2 linked regions of the Homo sapiens genome follow. The protein of the gene in region 2 purifies or fractionates together with the protein of the main gene of each other region. This does not show direct contact. Each region holds a gene or a part of one and is shown on either strand. Other genes may lie near its edges. The genes, in order: DECR1 and ZFP36L1.

Region 1 (3,815 bases), on a different chromosome or scaffold from region 2:
GAAAATGAAATTAAGAAAACAATTCTGTTTATAATCATATTGAAAAGAATACTAATACATTTAATAAAAGAAGTACAAGACTTATAAATTGAAAACTATGAAACATCATTAAGAAATTAAAGACCTAAGTAAACAAAAAGACATTATATGTTCATGGACTGGAAAGCTTAATTTTGTTAAGAGGACAACACTTCCTAAATTGATATACAGATTCAACAAAATCCCTATCAAAATCCTAATCAGCTTTTTGTGAACGTCGACAAGCTTATCCTAAAATTGTTTTGAAAATGCAAGAGACTCAAAATAGCCAAAGAGATTCATTAAAGAATTGTTTGTAATAGAAAGACTACAAAACAATCTATGTGTGTTTCCTTAGGGGACATAGCCAATGAATTAGAGCACATCTATATTACAAAATACAGTTATATGGATCTATTATCTACCAAAAGAAGGAGCTGGAATGTATATGCTGACTGTAAACATTGCTATAGATGTATTATTTTTTAATTATTCAATAAGTATTTGTTGGATACCAACAATGTGAGACACTATGTGTTAAGTGTAAAACTCAAGGTAGAGAAATACATGTAACAGGCTCCCCTTCATGTGGTTTTTTAAAATGAGGATATCTTCATACATATGTTGACATATGCACAAAAACTGTCAGAAGTATCCACAAGAACCTATTCATAGTAATAACCATAGTAATAATAACCTTATTACACTGTCACTGCATATCCTTTTATATTGCTTGAATGTTCAACATGTTCATAAATTTTTTTTCTTTAACAATAGCTAACAGAAAACTGAATCATATAGGCAAGCACACAATACAAGAAGTACGTAGAGGAAAACAGAGCAAGAAAAAAAATGGCCTAGAATCAATTTCATGATAAGGACATATACCTTACTTGAAGCATAACTACTCTATATTAAACACTAAAGTGTGAGCTATATTTATAAAGATAATGAAATATTTCCACATCTATTTTCTTGGAGCTTCTACGTATCTGTTGGTTCAGGTTGAATCAATATTTTTTAGATCAAATTTACTCCAACTGGAATTCACATAAGAGTTTTGCAGACTGGGCCCTAACTGCCATATTAAACTATCAGCGTGGTAAACACTGGACAACCATATTTTTCAAAGGATGAGTTTCAAAAGTGTACATCTTTGCATTCCCAAAACACCTTATGTACTCCCTGAATACAGGAAGCCTTCCATAACTACTTCCCAATTTATTTTGTCCGATTGCTAGAAGGCCATGCGTGCATTCTTTCCAATGGCCACACCACTGCCACTTCAGCACAGTGTATGTGGTCCTTAGCTGGAGGTATCTGGTAATACAAGGGATAGTTTGGTGGGATGTTCTACTGGATGTTCCAGTGCAGAAAAGGACAGCCTTGCAGAATGAAGAACTGTCTCACCCCAAATGCCAACAGTTGCCCTGCAGACATTAAAATAACTGAGTACCACACCAAAAGCTTGCCACAGGCCTCGTTAACTCATGCTCCATGACTGTGTAGATTGCTTAAGCACATCTGCCTGCTCCTTAACTTATAGCAGGGCACTGAACAGAGGCCACTGATATTCTCAGCTTCCGCAGAGCACAGATCTTGTTGCCACAGCAACCTGAAGGTAAGGCTAAACAAATATAAAAGAAACTGCCCAGCTGGACTCCAAGCTCCAATGGCTAAGCTGAATTATGCAGTTGCCAGGAGCAAGACAGAAATTACATTTTTGAGGAATGATACATTTTGTATCAGTGAACATGAGTCCTTGAAAATGTCGGTGCTCTATGCCATAGGGTGTACATCTCATTTTATTACAGTGGTTATCTGTCTGCAGTTAGATGCAGACTGAACAGATGCTTCTCCAATACAACAAAATAAAAAGAGATGAAATCACAGACCTAAGAGGCAATTTGAAATTTTCAGCTAGGGTCTTCACTCCTGCCTGCCTCTGATTTGAGTCATCTCTTATTGATCCCCTATCATGTTAACCAAAACTATAATGACAATCTTTTTTAAACCAAAAATTAGAATCTCTGCTCTTGCAAAGAGTTTGTTTTGGGAATTTGCTTACATAAAAAAGTATTAGGGATAAACATGACATTATGATGGATATAGAGTTTATTCATTTATTCATTTTAAGCAAGTGTTTATTGAGCATATATTAAGCCCCAGGCACTGTTCTAGGCATGGCAGTACGGCAGTAAAAAAAAAAAACAGACACAATATTCTATTCTCAGCAAGATTATCCTTGGGGGAATGAGGGATAAAGAAATTAAGTTAAATATGTAGTATATTAAAAGTTGATATGTAGTGTGGGGAAAAAATAAGGCAGAGAATAGGGATAGAGCATTGCTACTTTAAATAGAGTCATCAGCAAAGGCCTCATTGAGAAGGTGACATTGGAGCAAAGACGTGAAGGAGAAGAATGAATCACAGGGTTTTAGGCAAAAGGGATTGGGAGCAAAGGCCCTAAGCAGGGGGCATGCTTATGGATGGGGTAACAGTCAGGAAGCCAGTGTGGCTGGAGAAGAAGGAAGGAGGGAGACAGGGGCAGGAGAAGAGGTCAGTGAGGTAAAGGGGACTGGACCATGCAGGCTGAGTCAGCCACTACGGAGACTTAGGCTTTTACTCTGAGGCAAGTGGGAAACATCTTCTAAGTTTTAAGGAGAGAATGGACATGATCTGCCTTAAGTTTTAAGGGGATTGTTCTGGCTGCCATGGAGTGTAGAGGGCAAGGTTGGAAGCAGGGAAACTATTAGGACACTTGTATAACAAGCCAGGCAAGAGATGGTGATGCTTAGCCCAGGATGCTATCATGTGAACTGGTGGGAAGTTAGCAAATAAAACTACTTGCAAGAGCAAAGGTCCCAAAAAATGAGGACGTAATGAGTCACCACTGTACCTAATATCGCCTGGTCCAATTATTTCTTCTTTTTCTTAATGTTTTATTAATACATAACATTTTAACCTATTTATGGGGTACATGTGATATTTTATTCCATGCATAGAATGTGTAATGATCAAGTCAGGATATTTAAGATATCCACTAGATCCATGATTTCTTCTTGCCTCTTGCCCAACAACATGAGCTTGGACTTTTGTTCTTGATCTATTTCATCACATTTTTGCCTGTTTCATTAACAGCATATAAACAGGTCTCCTGTTTACTGAAAAGAACTGAGAGAGATTTTTCTACCTCTCTCATCTTTACCTCAATATCCCTGTTACATCTGCACTGCCTTTGTGTTCTAGAAAAATTAAGATTTAAATGTGAGCCAGAAAAAAGGAAATGGAGACTCATCAGACAGAAGTCATTAAGTGTACATGAGAGATACCGAGGGCAGTAGAAATTAAGAGAAGACAACATATTCCACACACATTTAACATGTAAATTAGCCTGAACCCAGAACCCAACCAGCCAGACCTGGCAAGTAAGGTGAGAGCTGTGGAAGGTAACTGAGTTCTAGTTTTAAGTGGCTGCATGCAGAGTGATGCTCTGACTGAAATGACTGGGTTGACATGAGAAGACCAAGTTGGAGCATTGAGGATAATGAGTTCTGCATCAGAAATGCTGCACTTGGGATGCTTCTGGAATAGTCAGGTAGAGATATCTAAGCTGCAGTAGGAAATATGGTTTTGAAGCATGAAGAATAAATTAGGGCTAAAGGTAAATGGCAACATCATTTCATCATTCCAGCAATTATGAAAGCCTACAGTTCTATCACTGCTTTTATGTTACAATGCAGTGTGAGGGTTTCCCAGACTGGAAGGGATAAAAGTGCAGTTGACCTTGTATTCTA
Region 2 (3,915 bases):
CGTAAGAAACCACAAGATCCAAACTGTGTGACAAGCACCCTGCTCCATGCTGACTCCTGCAATGCAACCCCCATGTCCTCTGTCCCCAAAGCTACCACTTTAAAGTTCAACTTTTTTACTAGTCAAATAGATTCTTCAACTCAAAATATCTCACACAACCCAGACCTCTCTAGATTACCGCACCCCGCCCCCGCCACCGCCCGCGACAAAAACAGGTAAACCTCAGAAAGGAGTCTATCATAGGCTACGTTAGGTCCCCTTCCAATCAGTCTCTGCTTAATTGATACCCCCTCCTTCAAGACCTGGCCTAAGACTCTCAACTTCCTCCTTCAGAAGTGTTCCCTTCCTTTGGCAACAGGTTTTCAGACTGCCTTTGCTTTTTCTTGTGGGGAGGAGATTGGGGGCCTGGTCTGAGGTTGGGGGAGACAGGGATGTGATTCCTGAAAATAAAACTCTTTGCCCTAAGTTCCCGGAAGAGATATTTTCTACAATAATCTCTCTCACCATTTCCACTCAGCCCTAGCCCACCCCGCCCCCTTCACTGAGAAGATGCCTTTGCAATTAGTCTTTTGGCTGCAAGAGCAAGCTTGGATAAGAGCTCCAGTGTTTAATCTTTAACGCAAAGCTGCAGATGGAAAGGAAAAGGAAAGCACCAACCCCCCTACCCACCTCCTAGTCAATAGCGGATTGGGGGTGGTGGGGATGGGGGCAGAGCCACCAATGGCAGGTTTCTGTTCCAATAGGACCCTGGTCACCTGCCCAAATTGTACCCAAGATTTGGAAATGGTGCAGGTCAGGGACCTAGGAGTTAGTTCCCAGCCCATGTGGGTGTCATTGTGCAAATTCTAATGTTGGTCCCTTAGGATCAGCAGGGGGGGACCGGGAATCTGTAACTGCAACCACCCCACCGAGAGGATTACAGGAACCCAGTCGAGAGCTGGTTCCCAACAATGAGGTTCATTTAAAAAGTCGTGAGGGGGGAGGGGGGCCAAAGAAAGAAATAGATCAAAGAGCGGGAGAGTCGAGAAAAGAAGGAAGAAATGTTGGGGAGCGCTGGCAGCCGGGCTGGCAAGTGGAGTTTGGGAATGTGCAGGGAGGGAAGGAAGCTGAAAAATTCAAACTTTTTAAATGCTACTCTTCAGCTCCTCGGCGTCCCTGCACCCCAACCCTGCAGCCCTGGGGCGTTGGCAGCTGCACCAACAGGAGCAGCAAGCTGGGAAAACAGAGCAACATGACCCGACGTGTTAAGAGAAGGCAAAACACTTCAGCAATTAAAAAGTAGCCCAGCAGCTTCACCCTTTCAAATTGGGAGGGGGAGGTTGGAAAGAAATTTAACAACATCCATAGACTTTTGCTATGTACATTTAAACCGCAGTCCTGGAACATTCCGAGTTTAAAACTTGCTTTTTCAACACTGGCTGACAAGCAACATGTTTTAAGGAGCCCCCCATTAAATCCTTACTCGCGGGACTCTCGAGTTCAAGCCAGCATTTTGTCGCCACCTCCCCCCCCAACCCCGCCCGCAATCGATGAGCCGCAATGCCTCGGCAACACAGGTAAGCGGGTCAACCTGAATGCCTCTTTCACCCCAAAGTTTGCTGCACGATCGGCTATCGCGGGAAGAAGCCCAACGGAGCTAGGGCGGACTCAAGCCCCACTGCAAACTTGTTCTGCAACATCTTTTTGAATCACAACTTGGCCTTTCTTCCTCGCATATCCCCAGCTCCCCCCAAAGAGTGGAGGAAAACATTGTCCCGAGACTCACTTCCCCGAGGGACCTCCCACTCCCAACCCCACGGGTGGGTAATGCCGCTGGACAGACCTAGGGCGCAGACTGGGAACCCGATCAGACCAGCAAACCTGGGATCCAGCAGCACGTTACGTAAAACAGGATCGCCCAAAACTTGTCCCAATCCCAGCCCTCCCCCCGAAGCCCCCGGGCTGCCCTGCCAGGCAAACTTCGCCCCTCAAAACCCTGGCCTCCAGATTCACATGTAATCCCCGCCAGCAACTGTTGAAACTCAAAGGGTGGGAAGGACGGGGCCAAATTCCTTCAAACTTGGGAGAAATGCCGGAGGAGAAAAGAATCATCTCGCTGCACCACTTTCCCCATTGCCTTCCAAGACCCAAACTTTTGGGGGTTCTTTCTTAAGGCAAAAGAAAAAGACTTTTTGAAAAGCAAATGCTCCGCCCCCCTTTACCTTGCATAAAACTTCGCTCAAGTCGAAGATGGTGGCAGACACGAGGGTGGTGGTCATCCTGTGCGTTCGCGCGAGCCAGGGGCGAGGATCTGGTGTGTCGCGAAGGTCCCGGTGCGGGGAAGGCGCAGCCTCTCCTGTCTGGAGTCCCACACGCCAGTTCCCGGCGCCCCTCGCCTTTCTGACTCCGGGCTGGGGCGCGCAAAGCCCAATTTATAAAGTTCAGATTTGGTGGGCCGGGGGGAGGAGGAGCTTTAAACTTATTTAAATGAGGAAGAGGAGGAAAAAGAAGTTGATTGACACTGGAGTTGAATCAGCCATGCGGTCAGGCGGGGAGGGGGGGCAGGGGGAGGAGAAGAAACTTTCAAAAGGAAGAAGGGGGAGGGGAGACGAGAAAAGAAGGCGGAAAAAAAAAACCCCACTGTGAGCCGCGCACAACTTTTTTTTTTTTTTCTTTAAGAGGAAAAGTTTCAAGTCGGCTGACTTCCCTACCCGGCGCTTCAGGCGCCCCCTCTCCGGGGCCGCGCGGGCGCAGAGCGGGAGGGGCGCGCCCCCTCCTTTGTCAGCCTCAGAGCGCGGCTGTGACGTCACTCATTCCACTCCCTCCGGGGTTCTTGTTGTCATGTTGTTGTTTTTTGTTGGGCAGGAAGGCGGGCTCGACTTTCTCTTTTTGCCAGCGGGAGCTGAAGCCCGTCCTTAGCGCCCGGGCCGCGGTTTCCATCTTGAGCTGGCGGTCTCCTTGAAACTTCCCCAAGTGTCTGCACAACTTACCTTTTCCCGACTTCTCTTCGACACTCGGCTCCCTTCGGCAAACCGGGCAGGCCGAGGACATTAGAAATTTGGGACGCACAGAATGTTCAAGCCTAGGATTTTATGTTGCTGTTTTTTTTCCAGCGGGGCGTAGGGTGGGGCGCGCTGCTGGGGGGACTAGGGAAACTTTTTCCCCAGGAGGACATGGTCTGGCGGGGGCGAGCGCGGCACAATTTAGTGCGCCGCACGCGTCGACACTCGCGCTCGCTTTGCAGCCGGCGCTCTCCGGGTGTGGGCGGGTGGGGGGCGCCGCAAAAAAAGACCACAACCCGGGACGATTGTTTGTTTTACCAGGCCTAGGCGTGCCGTTTCTTTTCACGCATCCAATCTTTAAACTTTTTAGTCAAGAAAACCCTAATCCTTCCTGAATGCCCCTTCCTCCCAGAAAAAGCCCACCGAGCAACTCACTACTTTCCACGCGCGCTCCGAATTCTGGGCGGCGCCACAACCCTCCCTCCTCCTCCATCCTCCCCACACACACCTCAAGACTCTAGAACAATGAAAAAAGGTTACTTTGGTAAGAATGAAGGTAAAGAGGTGGAGGGAGGCGGCACTTTTAACTTATTGTTGCTTCTCTCTCGCCCCCACCGGAGTGGAACATATGGCTTGTCACGCTGCGCCGTTTTGGCGGGAGGTGGAGAGGGGGACATGGGAGCCACGAAACCGAAGGGCCCGCAATGGAGCATGACTCCCTTGAAAATGATAAAATATATACTGTTAGGTTTGGATGCCGCCCACCCAAATAAAAAGTTAACGAGTCCCCCACCCGCCCCCTGCGCCTTGGCCCGACTGCTGGCGTGATGACCCAGGCGGAAGTCGCAGGGCTGCGCTTCTTTCCGATTTCCACGCGGGCTCCGCCGCCCCCCTCGGCCCTCGCACGTTTCTTCCCAGCACTCGAGGCCGCCGA

Evidence for each region.
Region 1: the proteins of ZFP36L1 (region 2) and DECR1 purify together in Homo sapiens (affinity purification with mass spectrometry; one large-scale study listed by BioGRID and IntAct). This does not show direct contact.

The regions. Positions count from the first base shown.
Region 1 is NC_000008.11:90,007,917-90,011,731, reverse strand, and holds part of DECR1 (2,4-dienoyl-CoA reductase [(3E)-enoyl-CoA-producing], mitochondrial isoform 1 precursor), read right to left. Parts: intron 1-3,815. UniProt on the Homo sapiens protein: Auxiliary enzyme of beta-oxidation. It participates in the metabolism of unsaturated fatty enoyl-CoA esters having double bonds in both even- and odd-numbered positions in mitochondria.
Region 2 is NC_000014.9:68,790,681-68,794,595, forward strand, and holds the start of ZFP36L1 (mRNA decay activator protein ZFP36L1), read right to left. Parts: upstream 2,259-3,915; coding exon 2,202-2,258; intron 1-2,201. UniProt on the Homo sapiens protein: Zinc-finger RNA-binding protein that destabilizes several cytoplasmic AU-rich element (ARE)-containing mRNA transcripts by promoting their poly(A) tail removal or deadenylation, and hence provide a mechanism for attenuating protein synthesis.